Homo sapiens: one gene and its partners. The protein of the gene in region 2 interacts with the protein of the main gene of each other region in a pairwise test. Each region holds a gene or a part of one and is shown on either strand. Other genes may lie near its edges.

Evidence for each region. Proteins that work in one complex are often made in the same cells at the same time.
Region 1: the proteins of PLEKHB1 (region 2) and ZDHHC17 interact in binary tests that used the Homo sapiens proteins (3 or more experiments, as listed by UniProt).
Region 3: the proteins of PLEKHB1 (region 2) and GLIS2 interact in binary tests that used the Homo sapiens proteins (3 or more experiments, as listed by UniProt).

Annotation. Positions count from the first base shown.
Region 1 is NC_000012.12:76,808,511-76,816,114, forward strand, and holds part of ZDHHC17 (palmitoyltransferase ZDHHC17), read left to right. Parts: intron 1-532; coding exon 533-610; intron 611-1,202; coding exon 1,203-1,347; intron 1,348-6,635; coding exon 6,636-6,700; intron 6,701-7,346; coding exon 7,347-7,509; intron 7,510-7,604. UniProt on the Homo sapiens protein: Palmitoyltransferase that catalyzes the addition of palmitate onto various protein substrates and is involved in a variety of cellular processes.
Region 2 is NC_000011.10:73,649,517-73,657,725, reverse strand, and holds part of PLEKHB1 (pleckstrin homology domain-containing family B member 1), read right to left. Parts: intron 7,174-8,209; coding exon 7,021-7,173; intron 5,939-7,020; coding exon 5,836-5,938; intron 4,752-5,835; coding exon 4,712-4,751; intron 1,924-4,711; coding exon 1,819-1,923; intron 1-1,818.
Region 3 is NC_000016.10:4,332,463-4,340,066, reverse strand, and holds the end of GLIS2 (zinc finger protein GLIS2), read right to left. Parts: intron 6,721-7,604; coding exon 6,548-6,720; intron 5,267-6,547; coding exon 5,090-5,266; intron 5,008-5,089; coding exon 4,874-5,007; intron 4,793-4,873; coding exon 4,674-4,792; intron 3,343-4,673; coding exon 2,543-3,342; 3' UTR 472-2,542; downstream 1-471. UniProt on the Homo sapiens protein: Can act either as a transcriptional repressor or as a transcriptional activator, depending on the cell context. Acts as a repressor of the Hedgehog signaling pathway. Represses the Hedgehog-dependent expression of Wnt4.

The DNA of each region.
Region 1 (7,604 bases), on a different chromosome or scaffold from region 2:
ATTAAGCTTACTAATCTAATACTAAAGTTGCTATTTCCTTTTCAAGCAACATGGCTTTAAAGGCACAAGAAATAACAAGGCATAGTAAAGAACCTTTATGTTATGTGTATATTATTTGATTTAATCTACAGTAATCTTAAGGAAAGTAAGGCTTAAAAAGCTGAGCTACCCAAGGTAGACCATGTCTTGCCTATTCTGCAACTATTCTAATTTCAAGTTTCTATATGCTACTATTCAAATCTTTGTAGTTCCTTGAGTACCTTCTTTTTTACGTGATTTTTTTGGCATTTTTATTCTTTTTTTTTTGTAACTTAAAAATTATTTTTCTTTTCCTTATTCTAGAACAAAAGAGGTATTTGATATAAAATTCTGCTAAATATGTTTTTTAAACAACCACAAAAGATTATTTATTTTCAAAGGTTCAAACTAGCATGAGATCTGAAATAGAAAACATGTATTTACATATTTTTCACAAAATTTCTTAAAATTGAAAATGAAAGTTATTTAAATTATTATAAATTTTGTCTTATAGATACTATATTTCGAAAGGTGCTATTGTGGATCAACTTGGAGGGGACCTGAATTCAACTCCATTGCACTGGGCCACAAGGTTTAAATTTGCTTCTGGATTTTTTTCCTTTGGTTCCTTTATTAGTATATAAATAAACAACTTTAAAAAAATGATATACTAAAATGAATAGGAGAGCTTATTATGCCGTTAGTTAATATCATAAATATGCTGATGTTTTATTGTGAAATATTACCTGTAAAGAAGCAAAAGTTTATTGTCCAAAGTTTCCCTGGCCATGCTGATATTAATTCAGTTAGTTATAAGATTGGATTAAACTTTGGATTTCTAAACGTAATATTTTTGCAGCCTGTATATATTTACAATGAAAGAATTAGCTCATTTCTTGGGATGATTGAGATAATATTAGAATGGACATAATAGAATATAGTAATTATTTACTATATATTTAAATAAGTTATGAGTACTTCCATACATTTTCAGACTGTTAATCTAGTTAAGACTTCTAAGAACCATAAAATCCTAAATGTATTTTGACATGTATCTATTTTAAAATAACTTTTCAAAATACATACGTAATCTTCCCACCATACCTTACTTGAAAAAGCTCTTCCCAGAGGATCCTGTTTGAAATAACTTTATATATCTAAGTGTTTATTCTTTTATGTTTTAGACAAGGCCATCTATCCATGGTTGTGCAACTAATGAAATATGGTGCAGATCCTTCATTAATTGATGGAGAAGGATGTAGCTGTATTCATCTGGCTGCTCAGTTCGGACATACCTCAATTGTTGCTTATCTCATAGCAAAAGGACAGGTAAAAAAAATCTCAGTGGTATGGATTTTAATCAGATGTTCTTCATAGTTTAAATGCCTAATATTATTGGTGTTGTAACAAGCCGTTGATATTTAAATAGCACTTTCTGATGGGTGAAGAACATAAATATAGTGAGTTTGATATGGAGATATTTAATGTACCTAACATAAAAGCCAGCATGAAAATCATGAACCAGATAATGATGAAGTTGGGTTTTTTATTTCTAAGAGTAATGGAGATAAAGCTCAGAAATTAAGAGAGAAAATATAAGTATCTATTTTTTCTTTATGTATTTTGAATATATCATCTGAATTCATCCAAACTTTTTTGAACTTATTTATTGGTTATTTTATATATTAAATATCTCTTGAGAGGGATACATTTTTTAAGATCAGTTTCTGCTGTATAAGATAATGCTGCTTCTTACTTGTCAGAAAAACATCATATTTTAAGTGGTTGTTCCTGATTTTTCTTGAGTGTGCAGTGACCATAATCACATTAAATATTACCAGTTTATATAATCATGTTTTTGTAATAAACGTATTTTGTTAAAAGTAATGTCACCCAGTTTTTCTTTAGTGTGTTTTTTCTGGTTATATTTGAACATTAATTTTATAAGTAAGGATCTCATCACAAGAATAACTTTAAGATATATGTATTTAATTTGTTGCTATCAACATGTATTTATTGTTAATTTAAAATTCTATGCGGATTTAGAATTTGAATACTATTTCTTTTAATGAAGGTTTTACAGTATTTGTTGTTGGCAGTCTCAAGCAGTGGCAGTTGTGTTGTGCATTATAGTTTAGGAAAAGAGGCATAGACTGATAAAGTTAATTGCTGGAAGGGGAGGGGGGGTTATTGTCTGTTACTGTGTTAAAAAACTACTGCCAAAATCTAATGGCTTAAGAACAATACCAACCAATTAATACGTCTCACAATTTTGTGGGCTTGGCTGGATGGTTTTTCTCCTTGGCTGGTGGCTGCAGTTGTCTGGCGGCTTGACTGAGCTGGAAGATTGGCTCACATATCTTGTGACTTGATAGGAATGGCTACAAACTGCTTAACTGGGAGGCTGGGGCAGCGAGGCCTCTTTCTTTCTCTATGTAGTGTCAGAACTTCTACTTTTCAATACCAGTCCATGTGGTCTTTCCAGCAGGAGAACTAGACTTCTTACATATTGGCTTAGAGCTCCCAAAAGAACAAAAGTAGAAGCTGTTTTGCATTTTTAAGTCTTAGGTCTTGAACTGACACAGCAACGTTTTTTCTCCATTCTATCAGTTAAAGTGAGTTAACAAGGGCCATAACCACCCGGAGGGAAGGGACCACACAAGGGTGTGAATACCAAGAGGCCAGGTTTATGGGGGGTCATCTGGAGAGCAACTGCTATAGGAGATTATTCTTGTTATTCTGCAGTTTTTTTCTAGAACAAACGTTGAAGCAGTAAATGGTGCTATAGCACATCACAAGGTCTTTAGTGGCCTTCCATATTGCAGAATAAATCTACAATACACATTCACTTTTTTACTTTCAGTTTTTAACTGGGAAAGAAAGGTGGTGTACATTTTTGAGTCTTCATGGTCTTTTTTTTAACTTATTGATTTTGGAGTTTGGATTATTTCATTAATCTTTTTAACCTCTGGTATAGTATATAGGCTATAAAATTCTCAAAGGGCAGGATTTCTACCTGTCAGTGCTTTTGGTACAAAAAGGGCATGATGATGATAATGATGATGATAAATGTCTGAGAAATAGTTTTTTTTTTCCATGAGTAAATTTTTTTTCTGCACACAAAGATAATAAATGTTTATTATGAAATATTCAGGCATAATAGAATATGACTTAGAAAATGAAATCTCACCTCTCCCCTTGGCCATCTGCTGACTGAGGTTACTTCCTTTAATAATGTAGTATGTATTTTAAGAGATTTTATTCCATGTACAGATTAAGCATCTGTAATCTGAAAATCCGGAATGCTGCGAAATCCAAAACGTTTTGAGTGTCAACATGATGCCACAAGTGGAAAATTTTACCCCTGACACCTTTGCTTTCCAATATAGTTCGTTGTACACACACTTTGTTTCATGTACAAAATTATTTAAAATATTGAATAAAATTGCCTTCAGGCTGTATGTATAAGGTGTATATGAAAGATGAATGAATTCCACATTTAGATTTTGGTCCCATTCTCAAGATTTTATTACATATATGCAAATATTTCAACATAGGAAAAACATACACATATTCAAACACTTCTGGTCCCAAGCATTTTACATAAAGGATACTCAACATGTATACACTAATATATTGTAAAAGACACTCTTCCAATGTGCATTGCATCATACTGTGAGGGCCCAGAGTTTTTCTCTGTGCTAGAGCACTGTGCCGTTTAACCCCTGGATACCTTTGAGCTCCACTTCTGCCATCTCCCCATCATCACTCTGCTTTAACTGCACTAGTTTTTTTTTGCTACTTTTTCAGCAACTCTGACATGCTGTTGTCTAAGGGCCTTTTGGTTGCTGTTTCTTCTGCTGGTATATTCTTTCCTCAGATAGTCACACAGTTTCTCTCTCTCTCTTCAGTCAGATGGTTGCTCAAATTTTATTAGTTCTGATTACATAGTTCCTAATTATAAGCAGTAATAAAATTAGCATATTTTTATTTCTTCTTCCCTTTCTCTTTTATCGACTGTAGTCAATAATATTGTTTTTCTTAATGTTAACTATGTTCTGATAAATTTTTACTACATTTTTATTACTTGATTTTTCAGCTTTAGATAGTTTTCTTTGATTCATGGCTACTATAGATGAGGCTCTCAGCATATTTTCATTTCAACCTTTTTCCATTTTCCCATTTTGTTGTTAATTATATCAATTTTACATTGTCAGGGTATATAACATTTCCATTCAGTTTTGTCATTCTATTCTTCACAATCGTTTTGTTTTAGTTATATTGTTAAATATATTTAGTGCTCACTACCAATTCTTTTGGATGATTTTCAGGAGAAAAAGGGGAAAATGCTAAGTTATGGAGCCCTGTTGATCATGGAATTCCCATAAGCTTTTGATCTGGGCTTGTTAATTCTTCCTAATAGAGAATACCCATACGTCCAGGCTGAACTTGGAAAAGAAGTACCAAGTTTTAAATCCCGACCCAAAGAGAGAAAAGGTTGAATTTCATTTTTCTTTTAGTACTCTAGAGATGTGCCATGATTTTACATTTTTTTATTTATTGATATTTTTAATACTATCATTTTTTAAAAAGGATATGAAAACACAACTAAGAAGAAGGAGAAACTTAAACATAAGAATTTACATGCTTGCTTTAATTAGACCTGAAATTTGGTTGAGGTCCTACGGAAATTAGGAGTAAAAGAAGTCACAATAGTTACTTCTCATATAAGAAATAAGGAAGTTTGTTGTTTCTTCAGAAAACATATTTTTTTTAAGCCACAGGATTATTTTAAAAAATGTACTTGCATATTGGAAATGTTGAGTGAGGTTGCAGAAGATATTCCTGACAACACTATTAAAGTAAATCCAGAAATGGATTTGTAATGGATAAGGCATAACATTCTATGACAGTATGCATGGTGAGTGACTAAGTTAATGACATCCAAGGAAATGCTTTACTTATCTAATGTAGTGGTTCTCAGATTTTTTTTCTTCAATATGCTTAGATAATGTTCACATTTGAGACATATTCCTATTGCTAACAGTGGCTCACAGAGAACTGATGCATAGAGATAGTGTTTTACAGTGTGCTTACTGTAACTCTCTGCTCTCTCCACTGATTGGTGAATTAGGTAACACAACTTGGATTAGAACTGCTTGCTTAATGTAATTCAGGAATGGGAGATGGGGTAGAGAAGAAGAAGAAACTTAATATTTATTGAATATCCATTATGTTCTCAGCTGTTGACTAGATGCTTTGCACACATTATTTAATCTTCACAGAAGTCTTATGAAGTTATTTGTATTTCACATTTTTTAATGAGGAAGCTAAGACTAAGAATTAAAGTAATTTAGCCTACAATCTCATAGCAATTATATGATGGAGCTAGGAAGTCAAAACCATGTCTTATTCTAAAGCCAAGCCTAGAAAAGTAGATAGATAAGCATGTCTTTTCCTTTAATAAATGGTTTTCGATCATCTACTCTGCTGGGCACTGAGAATACGAAGATGGATTTGAGATGATTTTTATTTTCAAAGTACTCCAGGTTAATGAGACACACATTTCAGGCATAGAGGATAATCAGTTCAGAATGGAGTGGGTTAGGAAAGGTAGTTTCAGAGCATTGAAACTGATAAGAGTCCCTGATACATCAGAAAGTCTTGCGCAAGGAGAATTAGATAACTAGGAAAGAGTTTCGGTTTAATAGGTGGAAGTTTTAGTTATAATTTGCTAAAAACTAAGTAGTAGTGGGGGAAAGATGGTGCCAGGGAAAGCAAAAAATTGAGTAGAAGAGGAAAAATAGTGGTTTATTACATGGTTTGGCTGGGAATAGTATTTATGCATATTTATAATAATACATATCAAGTATTAAATGTTTATATGAACCAGAATTACAATAGATCTCTTGAGAGGAAAGAATAGGAAAGGCGTGCATTTGTGATGTAGCAGAGAGGAAAGAGAAAAATTCAGATTTTTTGTACCAAGGAATTTCAGAATAATGCCTGAAACTGAAAAATCAAGAAGTAGCAATTCAAACATCTTATTTAAAGATATGGAGGTAAATATAAAAATAATGAGCCAAAAAATGGTGAAAATGGTGGGAAGTAAGGCAGGGGGATTGCTTTAGTGTGTTGCTTTTTCCACACAAACTGCAGAATCATTTAACTCTAAAAATGTACATGTGTAACAGTAAAAACTGAGTATATTAAAATGTCAGTTCTTTTTATTTTTTGTTTTGAAATGCCTAGGAATAAACAGTTTTGTCGTTCTCTCTTATGCATTAGTATAAACAAGTTTTTCAGAAACTTAATCACTTAACCTATCCTTTGTGGTTGAAAGGTCAGAATAGGTTAAGAATTTTAAATGTGAAACATTGAAAGGCTGATTAAAACATCTTAAAAGGGAATAATGTAAAAGCATGATATATGTTCACTAGAGTATATAGTGACAAGAGTTTCATTTTAAAGTTAAGAAAGAAAGTTTCATACATTATCCTTGATTGAGTAGTATTATATTCGCTTCTCCTTTTATATATAGATTAGATTTTTCCAAGCAAATTTGGTTAGGAACTTATAATTTAACTGTCTGACTTTTTTTCTTTTTACTTTATCAGGATGTAGATATGATGGATCAGAATGGAATGACGCCTTTAATGTGGGCAGCATATAGAACACATAGGTATGTAATGACTATAAAAAACTTATTTAGGCCATTTCAGCATAATACAATATGAAGTAAGAGAGAGGAAAAAGCAGTTAATACTATACTCACTAATATTTACAGTTTTTATTATGACTATAGTATATATAAATTACCATTTTGGATGTTCTGGTATCTCTGTGCTGTCTCTCCCTCACTGATTAGAGCTTCCTTAATCTGTTTCTCTTTTAACAATATCTAAGAAAAGAAGTTATCTTTTTTTAAAAATTAATTAATTTTTTCATGTGATTTACATATTGACAAATTTATTAATTAGTAAGTTGTCTTAGATCACTTTTGGAAGACTCCAAATTTAAATTTTAAAAAGTGTTATTCTTGAATTGTATAAGTATTAATGCCATTTCTAGGTCAAAAATAGAAAATATCAGGACCAAGTTGCTTATCCCCTGAAACTATTAATATATTATTTTATATGGTGTCATACATACTTAATACTTCATATTAGAATATTGTCTCATTATTGATTTTAAAGTTGTTGAGTAGGTTAGAAGTGTTCCAAAATGGAATGCTACTGTAAGCATAATCAGTTTAGTATTTGTAATGATTTCTATAATTGAAATTAGGGTTGTTGTTGTTGTTTGTTTTTTTTTTTTTTCCTTTTCAGTGTGGATCCAACTAGATTGCTTTTAACATTCAATGTTTCAGTTAACCTTGGTGACAAGTATCACAAAAACACTGCTCTGCATTGGGCAGTGCTAGCAGGGAATACCACAGTCATTAGCCTTCTTCTGGAAGCTGGAGCTAATGTTGATGCCCAGAATATCAAGGTAAAAATATTCTATATTGATAATACTGTATGAAATGTGGCTAATATGTGAATTCTGTAATAAAACAAGTTTTTCATAGACTGTCAGAGTTGAAA
Region 2 (8,209 bases):
TGAGGTCCACAGCCTCCACCTTGCCCTGCTGCTACACAGTGAGCCAGTGGCCTTGGGAGGCCCTGGAGAGGGTGGAGCACCCCATATCCCTCGAGGGCACCTGTTTTTACTCTCCACGTCTGGGAGGCCCAGAAGTAAACTCCTATAAGTCACCTGGCAACAAATAGGGACAGCCCAGAGACCCATGGGCAGAACCTGAGGGTTTGAACCTGCCTCTCCCTCTCCAGAGGCCCAGCTACTTTGTGGGTACAACCAGTGTTGACCAATCAGGGGGTCACATGCAAATGACTCCCCTTAGCTGAGCTGTTGTGTTATTAGGTTTACAGTCTGTTAAATCCTAGTTTTTGACATCCCCACTTTAAACAAACTTGCATCCTAGTTTGGGCATGGAAAATACCTCAGAACGATGGGCTGGGAGTCCCAGACCTGCCATTGATGAGTTGAGTGACCCTGATCAAGTTAGGTAACCTCTCCAAGCCACTGAGGATCTAACAGTGCCACATCTATACAATTTGGTGGCCCAGGCACTTCTAGGCTTAGTGATTCTGCACATCAGAGTCATCAGGAGACAATTTTTTTTTTTGAGATGGAGTCTTACTCTGTTGCCCAGGCTGGAGTGCAGTGGGGTGATCTTGGTTCACTGCAACCACGTCCGCCTCCTGAGTTCAAGCCATTCTCCTGCCTCAGCCTCCTGAGTATCTGAGATTACACCATGTCTTGCTAATTTTTGTACTTTTAGTAGAGATGGGGTTTCACCATGTTGGCTAGGCAGGTCTTGAACTCCTGACCTTGCAACCTGCCCGCCTCAGCCTCCCAAAGTTCTGGGATTATAGGTGTCAGCCACCAGGCCTGGCCAGGAGACAGGTTTAAACTACAGGTTTCCTAGGCCTAGGCCCCATGCCAGATTAAAACATCCAGAGGTGGAACATGAATACTTGTTATTAGTGCTTGTAAGTTCCTAAACAATCCTGATACATAGCCACACTGAGCACCACTGTGTAAGATGAGCTCAGAGTTGACTATAAGATCACAGGTACTCTCACTCAAGCCCCCTCCTGCCACCCACCCCATGCCAGGCCCTGTGCTGAGTTCTGGGGACAGAGAAAAGATTCAGGCCAGATCCTGCCTTCAAGAAACATTGAGGGTGAGGGGAGACAGACCTAGACTAAATTAGACTATGTAGTAGTATTGCTATAAAGGAAGTTTTTCACTCCCTCCTTCCTTCCTTTGCTCACTCAGTGAACATTCCCTGAGCCCCACTGTGTAAGAAAGGTCAGCATAGACTCCCCATCATCGAGCACTAATTGAGCATGTGCCATTTACCTAGCCTTGTGCCAAGTTCCATAGAGGCAGCGCAATCAGGCCTCATTCTTGCCTTGGAGGAAGTTCTAGGCCTCATGGAAGACTACACAGACAGGAATAAACCAGCTCTGAAACCAGGCAGAATGAAGAAAGCACTAAGCCTTGGTGCCGCTAGGCTGAGGGAGGGAATGACGATGCCTAGTGGTCTAGGAAGTCCCCACTGAGTAGGTGGCAGGCAGCCTTTGAGGTGGGCCTTACAGGATGAGCATCAGTTTGTCAGGTGAATGAGGAAACTGAGGTCTTGTCAGCAGAGGGAACAGCATGTGCGAAGGCTGGCAGAGGGAAAAGGTCTGGTGTGGCTGGGGACAGAGGGTACAGCAGAGCAGCTGGTTTGTGTCCTGTGGGTGATAGGGAGCCATGGAATGTTTGTCACAGGGAAGGGATGGACTGGGCCTGGTTTTGGAGGCTCATCCTGGTGGCCAGTATGGAGGCAGGGAGGGCCGAGCCAGCACTTACCCAGATCCGCCTCTCAACCTTACAGGGGCTCCACGAGCGGGTCACACACCTGACCTTGGAGCAAACCCGGCGGCTCCTGGGAGGGACGGTGGCTCCAGCTGGGGCCTGCTCAAGCCACAGAAACCCAAGAAGGAGGAGGGAGGGAGGGGGTGTCAGAGGCCCTCTACACCTAAAGAGACTCAAGAGCTCTTTCCAGACCCTACCAGAGCCCTCCGCCAGCTGGGCTGTGGCAGGGAGCATCCTCTTTCTCCTCAGCTCATGGTAACGGGGGAGGCTCAGAGAATGCTGATGACTGCCAAAGTTACGCAGAAAAGAAGGACAAGTAGTCTCTTTCCAGAATTAGCCCACCCTCCCCTATTTCATCCTGCTGGGGTTCCCAGTCTCCAGGGAGGACAGGGCGACTCCCTTCTGTCCTCTAGCCCACCTGGTCCGCTTCACCCCAGCCTCGTCCCTAGCTGTGCCCCCAGGCCCTGTGTTCCCAGTAAAGCTGGTGTTAGGGGCTCCTGGAGCCTCCACCTGGAGTGAGGTATGAACTCCAGCATGTCGGAGGACAAAGGGCAGGTCATTCCCACACAGGCTACAGAGAGAAGCCCATAAACAGAGGTGAACACACAAAGATAGGTAGACACAGGCACAAATACACCCCGACTCTAGTAAGCCCGGGCACAGAAGGACGTGTATATGTGGAGTAGTGGGAGGTAGAATAGAGGCCAGGGCAGAGAGAAGGGTCAGCAGAGCCACAGGAGATGGACAGGCAGAGAAGGACGAGGCCGCTTCATAGAGTCACAGAGTGCAGACAGTCACCCTTGCCTCCTTCCCTCCGCCTCTCTTTGGTGGAACTGACTTGCCCCACATAAAGAGGCTTTGGAGCTCAGAGCCAGGGTAGCCTGACCTGGGTCCCTCCACCCTGCAGACTACTGCTGTAGCCTCCTTACTCCCAGCTTTCTCCAATTCACCCGCCACTTGGAAGCCTGAGTCTGCTCCCCAAAATCTGACCACAGCCCTCGCTGCTGAATGCCCTTTATTGCTCCCTACAGGCCTCAGGGAAAGTCCATTTCTTCCAACTGGACTTTGAGGCCCATCATGAGCTGGCCCCGATGACCTCAGAGGTCATCTCTCCTGTTTCATTCGCCTCATGAATTGCTCTCCAGCCAGGCAGACTCTGGGCCCTTAGACGCATGCATATGTGCATAAGCACTTGTGCACACACACATGTGCACACATCACTTCTCTGTCTCTGCTCATGCAGCTACTTCTGCAGATAACGCCCTCCTCTCAAAATCTCACTGACCTAGGTTCCATGGTAGGCTTTTCCACTGACTTAAGAGTATAAGCTTTGGACAAGTCACCTCCCCTCTCTGAACCTCGGCTTCCTTATCTGTAAAATGGGACTAATAATACCAACCCCCACCCAGCTGCCCTGCCAGGGTTGTTGGAAGATGAAATGATGTCACTGCTGCCAGGGGCTTAGCATGATGCCTGGCACTCAGGACGTGGATGCCTGAGGAGGTTTCTAAATGCATCCAGGTCTCCCCTGCTACTTCCCAACGGACTTTCTCTATAGGTGAGAGGGGGCTCCATTGTGCCATACAGAGAAAGAGCAAGCACAGATTCTGGAGTCAGGCAGATGGGGGTGGAGGCCAAGCTGGGCTTTGGGCGGCTCTTCAAACCGCCACTTCCATCAGTCACAAGCTCTGTTGACTCCATCTCCTAAATATGTCCTGTACTCATCAGCCTGTCTCGGCCAACAAGGCCTTAATCCAGATCTCCAGTCTGTTGCCCGGACACTGTCCCAGCCTCCTAAGTGGCCTCTGGGTGTCTGCAGTTACCCTCTATAATCCATTCCCTACCTACCAGCCAGACTATCTTTTTTTTTTTCCTTTTTTCTACAACAAAATTTCATAAACTGACAGACTACCCCCTTTTTTTTACATGCCCCAACGTTACAACAATTATCTTTTTAAAAATATAAATTGAACCTGATCTGATCATGCCATCCCTCTGTTCAAAAACTTGTCATGGCTCCCTGGTGCTCTTAGCAGAAACCAACATCCTTCATACAGCCCACAAGACCTGGTCGTGCCAACCCTCCTTCCCTCCTTACCCACTCACTCCCTAAGCACCAGCCACCCCAGCTGTCCTTCTGTTCCTCAACTTGCCAAATGTCTTAACCTCTCTCAGAGCCTTGGCACATGCTGATCCCTCTGCCTGGAATGCCGTGCCCTTTACCCGATCCCCACACCTTTCACCCAGTCAATTTCTGTTTATCCTTCAGTCCTCGGTTTAAGCCTTGCCTGAACTACCACCTGGATGAAAGGGCCAGACACTGCAAATCTCTGTCAGAGCTGTTATTACTATTGAAATGGAATAATTAATTAGTTGTTCCATGTCTGGCTTCTCATTAGGCTGAGTCCAGGTGGGCAGAGCCCATATCTCCTTGGTTCACCTCTGATCCCTGGCACTTGGCACACCACCTGGCCCATAGTAGCAGCTCAGTAAATATTTGTTGTGCGGATGAATGAGCTTCAGTCTTATCATCTGCAGAGAGAGAACAATAACCCCAACTTCACAGGACTGTTGTGAGGAGCAGCTGGAATGATACCTGCACCACACCTGGCACATAATAGTTGCTCGATAAAAGACAGTTCCTTCTCCCCAGCTCATGTGCCACTCCCTCCAGCAAATCTCCATGGAGGCTTCTCTCTCTCCTCTGAGCACCAGTTGGCTCTCCCTTATCCTTTCCCCGAACACTTGGGACTCAGGCATCAGAGTTTGCAGAAACCTATCCACATAAGACTGAGAACTTCTGGCAGGTGGAGACCGAGTCTGAGTCACTCATGATTCCATGGCACATGGAGGTGGTGGGGAAAGGGGGAGAGAACGGGAGACTCACCGGGGTGGAGTTTGCCTCCAGCAGTGCTGTCTTCCATGCTCTGCAAAGCAAATCCCACCAGACCATGAGGAGGGAGTTTGGGGGTGGGTGAATTGGGCCCCCACATTTTAGACTTTCCTCTCCAACCCAGCCTCAAGCCCAAGTCTCTCATGAAAGGAGAGATCTCTTGTCTCCCTCAGGAAGACAAAAGTGACCCCTCCCCTGCCCCAGTCACATGGATGGAGCACTAAGTTAGGCTAATTCATTCTTCTCGTCCCCTCTAGAAGTTCCAGTTTCCTCATCTATACAGTGGACGGTTGGGCTTGGGTGGTCTCTCAGGGGATGTCAGATTCTGACACTCTTGGGTGGGTGTTGTAGCCCAGTCCCCCTCCACATCCCAAATCTACAAACAAAACACTTCCCCAAAGCTCTGACCCCAGAGCCTCAGGAAGGCCCAGCAGACACGGGACAATGGGGCCTTTGTTGGTTGCCATGGCACCTGGCTGGGTTGGACAAGGCGGCTCTGTGCTGTCTGCCTGGAGCTCAGCTTCCCCCACTCCCACACACCCATCTCTTTCACTCTCCTCCAGCGCAAAGGCCATGTACCCCTTAGCCAGAGGGTAGGAAGGGACGGAATGTGAGCCAGCAGATGGTGCCTGAGAAGGACACACCCAGGCTGGCCACGTGGATATGCATCTGACATTGGGGTGCCCCTGCCTGGGACGCAGCTGACTGCCTTTGTAGGCAGGTCCAGGGCTACCCCTCAGATCAGAGTCCCCCACCAGGGCATCTTCTAAGAAGGGAGCAAGGGTGCCACTAGGCTGCTCTGCTGCTTTGCATCACCCTCAGGTGAGGGCTCACCTCAGAGGCCGCTAAAGACCAGGAACCAGATACCTGAGGCAGGTGTGCACACCTCCCCCTCAGCAATCCTGAGTTCACTGTAGACCACATGAGGAGTTCACTGTGTGCCATGCCAGTCACCACAAGCCCTTCAAATCCACTCCACCCGCCTCCAATAAGACTCCCTTGCTGACTGGCCTTAGTGCCCTCTTCCTACGGTCAGAGAACCAGAAGGCCCAATGAGAAGGGGGCACATGGTAACTTTCCCCGAGATTCCACCCCATCCTCTCCTGGGAGTGACTCACAGGGCATCATCCTTGGTCTCCGCACAGAGGTGCAGGCGGCCGCCTTCCCGTAGGTTCACAGTCAGCAGGCCATCTCGGCTCCGGCCCTCTGGGGGCTGCACATCTGGAAGCAGACACACATATATGGGTTTCCACAGGCACAAGCCCCAGGTCCCCCCAGTAAAGCAGGGACAGGAATAGGAATTGACTTCTCTGGGCTCTGTTTACTGGCCACTGCCAACCTCCTCTGATCCCATATACTCTCTGAGGGATTCCACTCTACGTTTCCAACCTTTCCAACCTTTCCATGCTGAGGCTTCCCTCAGCACACCTCCCAGTTACCCTGTTAGAACTGTGGCCTGGGCCTTGGTGGAGGAATGTGGAGATTTGCTGTGACTCTGGGCCACTTCGCTTCTCTGGGCCTCCTAATTTCATTTCGTCTTCATCCAGTACCGAGCGCCTGGAGGGCAGGAACTGTGCCTGGCTCACCTCTGAGACAGCACAGAGGAGAAAGGCACTAAAGGACTGATTTTTCTTTTTCTTTTTTTTTTTTTTTTTGAGACAGGGTCTAGCTCTGTCCCCCAGGCTGTAGTGCAGTGCCATGAACACTCACTGCAACCTCTGCCTCCCAGGCTCAAGCAATCCTCCCACCTGAGCCTCTTAAGTAGCTGGGACTACAGGTACACACTACCATGCCCGGCTAATTTTTGTTTGTTTTTGTTTTGGTAGAGACGGGGTTTTGCCATGTTGCCCAGGCTGGTCTTGAACTCTAGACTCAAGTAATCTACATGCCTCTCAAAGTACTGGGATCATAGCTTACTGCAGCCTTGAATTCCTGGGCTCAAGCAATTCTCCTGCCTCGGCCTCCCCAGTAGCCATATGTGACCGCATCTCACCAATTTTTTTTTTTTTAAGAGACAGGGTCTCGCTATGTTGGCCGGGCTGATCTAGAACTCCTGACCTCAAGTGATCCGCCCGCTTCAGCCACCCAAAGTGCTGAAATTACAGGCATGCGCCACCACACACAGCCAAGGACCTATTTCTTAACTCACACCAAACTGAATTGGAGTTGACAGAGGCTCAGAAGCAATGTCTGTGAAATGCCTCTGAAAGCTGCAAAAAGACTTCCAACAGCAAGTGTTCTCGGAGACAGCGGGAGGCTCTGCCCACAGTCACGGTGCCACAGAGGAAGGGGCTTCTGCTCACCATGGCACTCTGGGCCGATCTTTATGTCACGGACATTGAAGTGGATGAGCACACGGTCCTCCTCGTCCTGCGCTGTCTCATCGTGGTAGTATCCCAGGGTCCCGTCCAGCCACAGGGCAAACCAGTTCCGCTTCCAGCGGCGGAGGATGGAGCCTGTACGATATTCCAGATGCACTAGGCAGGCTGATCCCAGAGCCTGCTGGGAATAGAAGCCCCAGACAGACTCCCAAGTCCCCTCAGCCTCAGTCCCTAGTGTTACAACCACCTTTTTCTTGTCTACCCCCTGAAATGAGGGCAGGACCTCTTTCTGTCTTGTTCACCTCCTGCCTCCCATTGGGTCTGATGCATAGCAGAAGCTCGATACACGTGCTGAACAGGGAAATGAGTGACTGGGCCCATTACTTGGAAGCTTCTAAGGCCAAGCCCCAGGTCTCTTCAAGGGCAAAGACCTCTCCCTACCTTAAGCCTGCATCTTCTCTCTCTCTGTCTTTGAGACAGGGTCTTGCTCTGTCACTCAGGCTGGAGTGCAGGGGCACAGGCATGGCTCACTGCAGCCTTAACCTCCTGGGCTCAAGTGATCCTCCCATCTCAGCCTCCCAAATAGCTGGAACATCAGGCACGCACCACTGCACCTGGCTAATTTTTAATTAGCCAGGTAGGTATTCTTGGAGACAGTGGGTCTCACCATGTTGTCTAGGCTGGTATCAAACTCCTGGGCTCAAGCAATCCTCCCAACTCAGCCTCCTAAAGTGTTGGGATTACAGGCATGAGCCACTGTGCCCGGCCTCTTATCTCTCATCTCTGACTTGTGTGATGGTTATTTGTGTAGCATCTGCCTCCTGTACCACTCTGGGGGCTATGGCTCCCCACGCAGGTCCTGGCACCCAGGGAGACCTGGCTCAGTGTTTGCTGAACTAAATGAACTGAGAATGGGCAGGGGTATGGGGCATGGGGCTGCTTGTCCCAGGGGTCCCCAGGATAGCTCTTGCTCAGGTCATGACTCTGGTCAGAGGTGGGTCTAGAAGCCCGAGACCGAGCTTCTGACATTTTGCAACTGGAAATCTTAACAGGGAAGGGCAAAGACATAAGAGAGCTTCTTAGGGCTTTGTGGATTCCAAAGCACAAAGGCATTTTTCACTTTGTTCTGTGCCTCGTTCTGTGTCCAGCCCGGGGTTGGGGGACTGTGGAC
Region 3 (7,604 bases), on a different chromosome or scaffold from region 2:
GCTCCTGCTTCCACAGCACCCGTGCCAGGGTGAGGCTCCCTCCCATAGCGCCCCTGCCCCTCCCACGGGGTGGCGGTCTCCTGGCCCCAGAGCTCTTGTCGGCAGCCACCCTGTCCCTGGGGCAGGTTTGAACCTAGCACCTCAGTAATCTGGGCACAGTACCCCAGAATGTGGCTGGGGGGAGAAGGGCCTTTGCCCACCACTCTCCAAAGCCGCAGCGGGCAGTAGTGGGCTGAGGACTTGGACCTTGGGATGCTCCGCCTGGAATCTTCTGTCTCAGTTCCTGTCACCTGTGCGCCCTCAGCACCTACCTCCTTCCCAACCTTCCAGTTCCTGCTCTAAGCGGCAGATTGAGAGGGAGGGGCACCTGCAGGGTCGGGGAGAAAGCCCGGATCAGGCCTGCAGGGGCTCAGGGCAGTGGTGGCCTCATGTCAGGGCCGGGTTCCTGGCACATCCACGACATACAAGCCATCTTTGCAACTCACTTTTATTGTTTCTTTATAAACTTCCTCTCCCATGGAGGAATATATTGTTATAGTCATTAGCTTATCTCTTTTTTTAAAACTCTATGCTAACAGCAATGGAGCCAAGAGGAGGAAAACATAAGCTACGATAGAAAGGCACTTAGAACCTGTTAAAATACTGACGTCCTGGAATGTGCAACAACACACCAATGACAACCACAAAAAGTACACCGGCCCTGCCGAGCCTGGTCCGTCACCGAGTCGCATGCTGAGCTCGTCGGCCTTCCAGTGCCCTGTTCCTCCGCTCTGCTCAAGTCGCAAACCCATGACCCCGCCAGGGACTTAAGGCCTGGGGCCCTCACAGGGGTGGGGGGTGCTCAGGGCCTGGGTGGGGCCCGAAGAAAGGAGACCAGCTCCCTCCTACCTTGCTCATAGCCCCTTCGAGGGGCAGAGCCAGTGTGGCTGGGCCCTGTCAGGGCTGGAGTCCAAAGCCCAGTGGCAAGGTGGGCCGGGTCAGGGTGACCCCTCTGGGACAGAAGGGCAGTCCGGGAGAGGGTGGGGTCAGCAGAGCTGCCAGAGGACCTGCAGGGCCACTAAGGACCCCAAGGCTGTCCGGGCAGCTGCCTCGTTTTACAGATGGGGAGGTGGAAGGGCCTGGCCACTCAGAGGCCTGGTGACAGGGCAGGCCTAGAAGCCAGAACTCCCAGCTGCCAGGTGGGAGAGGGAGCAGGGAGAGGCCCCAGATGGGGGGTGCATGGCTGCGTCCATCCCTCAGGGCGTCCTGGGATGGGACTGGGGCACAAGGCCCTCCAGCACCACCCTTAAGTGGTTCTGGCCCCTGCCAGGGTCCCTCTGAGTGGCACAGAACCTGGGGGGGCCCACTGGGTGTTAGGGGTGGGGAAGTGCCTCTGAGAAAGCGGCCCAGCAGGGAAAAGCCAGAGGAAGCAACGTGTCATGGGTCCAGCACCCTCCTCCAGCCACTGCTTCCCTCAAGGCCTTCAGTCCACAGCCTCCAGAAAGCTCCCAACACAGCACTGACTGGGAGCCCCCTCCCCTGCATGCTGTCACTTGGAGCCCCCAGACCAGGAGCTGTGTCCCAGCCTGTGGTCGGTCGTCCCCAGCCAGCCTCCCCCTTCCTGTTACAGGACCAAGGACCCAAAGGCCTCTGCAGGGGGCGCTGCCCAGGCCAGGCCCAGCGGGGGTAGAAGGAGGAAGACGGGGCGCTGGGCCTGGCCCCACATGCTCCCTGAGCCAGGGCCCAGGTCACTCAGTATCTTGGCACCACAGCTGGCCTGGCACCTCCCCTTGCCAGCTCAGGGGCCCTCGGACCTGCTTCCCACGCTCCCAGGGTGCCCCAAAAGGTAGAGGGAGGAGACCCTGGGGTGCAGGGGTGGAGTGGCCAGCTATCCCGTCTGGTACTGCAGGCCTGGCCTGGGGTGAGGACGGCGGCTGCAGAGCGGGCCTCCTCCTAACTAGTGGGAGGCGCCTTGTCCTGGGGGGCATGCTTCTACCTGGGGCTTTGCAGGGGCCTGCATCTGTCTTGCTTTCCCTCTGGAGGCAGGGTCAGAGGGAAAGGGGTCCAAGGAGCCCCCAGGGCAGGGGCTGGGTAAGCCTAGGAGGGAAGGGCAGGCCTCTGGTCCCTGGGGGCTCCTCTCAGGAAGGGGGAGCCTGGTGCTAGCAGGGAGGGCAGATGCCACCCCACCCACCCCCTCTGCTGGGAGAGGGCAACTTGCCATGGGTGGTCACTAGGTGAGGGAGGTGCCAGGGTGGGAGAGGGAAACGGGAGGAGGTCGGGCAGGGGAAAGCCTCTCAGAAGCTGAGGGCCAGGTGGTGGGGGACAGACAGGAGCGAGGCTTCAGCACCCAGGAGCACAGCTCTCCCTGCATGACAGGCCAGGTCCCCACCCGGGGGCTGGGAGGCCAGCCATGAATGACCTAGCACCATCCTTGCTCCCGGCGGGCTGGGCTGGGGCTGCCCGGGCAGTAGGACATTATTGCTATTTCACAGAAGAGTTTCCGTTCGTCGGGGGCAGTGCCGGGAGCTGCCGGGGGGGCACCACAACTGTCCGCAGGATGGGCTCAGTTCACCACAGCCGGTTTGAGCAGCACCGAGCCCGGCGGGATGACCACCCAGCCAGGGGCCAACGCCTCTGGGCTGCTGGCAGCTGAGTTGACGCCCGTGGACAGGTCCAGCACGGTGCCTGGCAGCAGGGGGAGTCCATCGGGGCTTGGCCGGGAGCAGCTGCTCTCCGTCCTTTCAAGGGGCGTCTTGTGGCCCTCCATGCCCAGGGCCCTGGTGGGCACCGACCCACGCCCCTTCTCCCCCTCGGCCTTGCCACCAGCTGCGCCAGCAAGGAGGGAGACCACAGGCAAGCCCAGTCCGCCAGCCCCAAAGGGCGAGGGCAGCAGCGGGTTCTTGGCCAGATTGAGAGGCAGGACGGGGCCTGGCAGCCCAGGGCCCATGCCCCCCCCACCCCCACTGCCCCCACCGTTGCCACAGGCCAGGGCACTGAGGTCAAGGGGGCCGGGGGCCAGGGGTAGGGGTAAGCCGGGCAGGCCAGGGCCTCCAAAGAGGGCAGCTGGGTTGGGGATGATGATCTGGGCCCCACTGACATAGGGGCCGCCGTCGGGGGCGGGCAGTGGCGGCTTGGGGGGTGGGCGCAGCTGCAGGAGCTCTTGCTGCTCGTGGGACACAAAGTGGCCATGGGCCTTGATGTGCTTGCGCAGTGAGCTGGGGTCCGTGTAGCGCTTGTGGCAGCCGGGCATCTTGCAGTAGTAGGGCTTGTCCACATAGTGGGTGCGCGTGTGCTTAAAGCGGTCACTGGAGTTGGAATAGCGCTTGTTGCAGCCCTCGTAGGGGCAGACGTAGGGCTTCTCACCTGCAGGGTGGTGCAGTGCAGTGCCGCCATGAGGGGTCTCTCCCCTTCCTGGGTCTCACCCCATGCACTCAACATTTCCCCGGGCCAAGCACTCCCTGGGAACATAGATGCCCCAATTCTGGGGGCAGGGGGCATCCCCAGCACATGGCATGAGATCTGCCCCCAGGCAGGGCACAGAGGCTGAAAACTCAGCCTGGTTGACTCCAGCTCTGCCTAGCCTCGCCCTGCACCCTCTGCTACAGAGGATGTGCCTTTCAGCAGCAGAACATGGCCTTGGAGGCCGGGCCCGGTGGCTCACGCCTGTAATTTCAGCACTTTGGGAGGCCAAGGCAGGCAGATCACTTGAGGCCAGGAGTTCCAGACCAGCAGGGCCAACATGGTGAGACCCCGTCTCTACTAAAACTACGAAAACTAGCTGGGTGTGGTGGCAGGTGCCTGTAATCCCAGCTACCTCAGAGGCTGAGGCAGGAGAATCACTTGAACCTGGGAGGCAGAGGTTGCAGTGGGCCAAGATCATGCCACTGCACTCCAGCCTGGGTGACAGAGTGAGTCTGTCTCAAGAAAAAAAAGACACCATGGCCTTGGAGATCACATCCTGGCACGAGGCGCCCAGCGTGGGCCTGGCCACAGGGAGTGCTGCCTGGGCGCTACTGCCCTCACTCAACAAATGGCTGAAGGTTCACCAGGCATCTTCTGCTGCCCTGGCCAGAGCAGGGGGCCACATGTAGTGACTGACCTCCTGATACATGGCTCTCCACCTGGAGATGTGCTGCCAGGGTGAAATAAACACCAGGAAAAAACATACACATCAGCTCCTTGAGGCTTTGTCATGAAATGAAGAACTTCAATATCTCACTGATTTGTCTTTAATAATGAATTGATAACACGTTGGATGTACCGGGGTCAACGAACCATATTACAATTAATTTCACCCATTTATTTTTGCTGTGTTTTATGCAGCGATTAGGAAATGTAAAATTATGTCTGTGGCTCTGACAACCAGAGCTGTCCTGGTATGGGCCTGGGCTGTAGTGAGGAGTGAAGCCGACCTGGCCTCTGCGATCACAGAGGTGGCATTAGTCAGAAGATACCCACGGGAACCAGGAAATGGCATTGGTGCTCCAAGAGCAGGTGCTGGGTGGGGGTCTGACCCCCAGGGGATGCTTCCCCTAGCAAACTGCATTGGAAAAGGGACCCCTGGGCGATGACATCAACCCTTATCTCTGAGGCCCGGGATTTACTTAACAGTCCCCTCCCCCTGGGGACCTGCCCAGCCGGTCTCAGCTGAGCGCCCCCTTCATGGGCCAAGCCGCCCGGCCCCGGCCTCTTACCTGTGTGCGACCGGTTGTGGATCTTCAGGTTCTCCAGGCGGGAGAAGCTCTTGCTGCAGGTCGGACAGCGGTGTGGCTTCTCGTTGGTGTGTGTGCGGATGTGGATGAGCATCTTGTACCTGCTCCAGGGAGGGCGGGGGGCACGGCTCAGCTCACTGGAGACCCCAGTCCTCCCTCTACCCCTCTCTCCCCCACCTCACCTGGCGTTGAAACCTCGGCCATGGCGGGCGCAGCCCTCCCAGTGGCAGCAGTACCCCGCATCCTTCTCGGGCTTGACATGGTAATCGTTGACATGGTCCACCAGGTCTTGCAGGAGCTCAAAGAGCTGGTTACACTGCGGAGGATGGGAAGTGTTCTGAGCCCATGCGGGGTGACCTGCCCCAGACTCCACACTACTCTTGCTGGCCCCCACTCACCTTGGCCCAGCGACACACCAGCTGCTTGGGCAGGGGCAGGTCTGGCGAGAGGCACTTGTCCTTGGGAGGGGTAAGGAAGGAGGAGGCAGGCAGGTGCAGGGCCCCCCCGGAGCCGAGGGGCAGGAAGAACTGGAAGGAGCTGGGGACACCATCCAAATAGCGCAGTGGCTGGAAGTCCTGGGGTGCGAGGGGAGGGCTAGTCAAGGTCCTGCTGGCCCAGAGCCCCCCGTCCCATCGGTAGTGGACTGAATGGTGTCCCCAAACAGAGACATTCAGGTCCTCTTCTCCCCAGCCCCTACCTGTGCATGTGGCCTTATTTGGAACTAGGATCTTTGCAGATGTAATCAAGTTAACATGAGGTCACACTAGATTAGGGTGGGCCCAACACCCAGTGACTGGTGTGTTTTAAATTTTTATTTTCTTAATTAAAAAAAATATATAGCCAGGTGCGGTGGCTCACGCCTGTAATCTCAGCACTTTGGGAGGCTGAGGTGGGCGGATCACTTGACGTCAGGAGTTCAAGATCAGCCTGGCCAATATGGTGAAACCCCATGTCTGCTAAAAATACAAAAATTAGCCAGGCGTGATGGCACATGCCTGTAATCTCAGCTATTTGGGAGGCTGAGGCAGGAGAATTGCTTGAACCTGGGAGGCAGAGGTTGCAGTGAGCCGAGATCATGCCACTGCACTCCAGCCTGGGTGACAGAGCTAGACCCTGTTTAAAAAAAAAAAAAAAAAAGGCCGGGCACAGTGGCTCACGCCTGTAATCCCAGCACTTTGGGAGGCCGAGATGGGCGGATCAGTTGAGGTCAGGAGTTCAAGACCAGCCTGACCAACATGGAGAAACCCTGTCTCTACTAAAAATACAAAAGTAGCCAGGTGTGATGGTGTGTACCTGTAGTCCCAGCTTGGGAGGCTGAGGCAGGAGAATCGCTTGAACCCGGGAGGCGGAGGTTGCAGTGAGCTGAGATCCGGGCCACTGGCCTCCAGCCTGGGCAATGAAGCAAGACTCTGTCTCAAAAAAATAAATAGAGATGGGGTCTTGCTATGTTGCCCAGGCTAGTTTTGAACTCCTGGGCTCAAGCGATCTTCCCACTTTAGCCTCCTAAAGTGCTGGGGTTACAGGTGTGAGCCACCGTGCCCGGCCATGACTGGTGTCTTTATAAGAGAAACCAGAGAGAGATTCGGACACAGAGGGACAAAGACCGTGTGAAGACAGGGCAGAGCCTGGAGTGAAGCAGCTACCAGGCTAGAGTGCCAGGCATTTCCAGAAGCTGCCAGAAGGCAGGAGAGAGGCAGGGAAGGTTCTCCCCTAGAGCCTTCCAGGTAGACTCCAGCCTCCAGAATTATGAGGGGTAACACATCTGTTTTTTAAACCACTCAGTGTTGGGGTACTTTGTCATGGCAACCCCAGGAAACCAGTCCACCCCTCTCTCCGGAACTCTCACCCCTCCTTACCGAGGCACTGGGCACTGGAGGCAGGTCCCCGTTGCCCTGGCGCTCGGGGGACAGCGAGCTGCTGCCATTGGGGGAGTCCAGCCCAGATGGTGGTGACAGGCTGAGGTCCACGAGAGGGGCTGCTGAAAAGCGTCCCTCCACCTTCTCGGGGAACTTGGAGTTCAGCAGGAAGCCTGAGGGAGAGGCACAGTTCAGGGTGTGCTGGAGTGTAGAGTCCCAGTGGGCCAGGTACTCCTGCCTCCGAACCCCCACTGTGACCTTGGGAGCAGACACCAGCCATGCCCCCAGACCACACGAATGTGAGGAGCAGCCTGTGGAGCTGACAGGTGTGTGACACCACCCACCACCTCTGAGCTTTACCAGCCGCCAGAGCTTGGCCCCCGTGAGCCGGGGAGGGGGGAAGTGCCCGCTTTGCAGACGGGAATGGTCTGGCACGCAGGGTTAATAACAGAACAGGACTCGAACCCAGGGCCCCTGGGTCCCTGTCAGACGGGCAGGTAGGAACCTTTCTAGCTTTTCCCAGGCCCCTTCCTGCCTCAGTGTTCCCTTCTGTAAAGTGGCAGGTTCGGGCTGGGCTGCTCCCATAGCCTTCCCCTTCAGACAAGCGGTGAATCTGGTTTTCGGGTGACTCTGCTCTTGGAGGCAGGGCAGAAGTGGTGCCCACCACCCTGGGCCCAAGCACCGGGAATCCCTGAGAGGCACCTCCTGGGCTCAGACCCAGCCTCTACTGCCCAGGTTGGCCAGCGGCACCACCCCACAGCCTAGGGTGCAGGTCCTGGGACTACTGCCGCTCCTTCTGAATGCCTGGTTGCCCGACCAGCTCTGTTCCAGATCTGCCTAGAGGCCTCAGTTTGCATCGTGTGCCAGCCACGTGAGCTGGGCACTGCAGCTCCCACCTCCCTGCAGACATACGATGCTGGGCGGATGGAAGGACAAGCGTGCGGGCTTCCCATGAACCGGAAGCCGAGAGGGGCTGCAGCTACATGCTGGTGGACACACTTGGCCATTCTCCCTGTCACCATGACTGGATCAGGGCTAAGTCCCCCTGCCCTGCCCA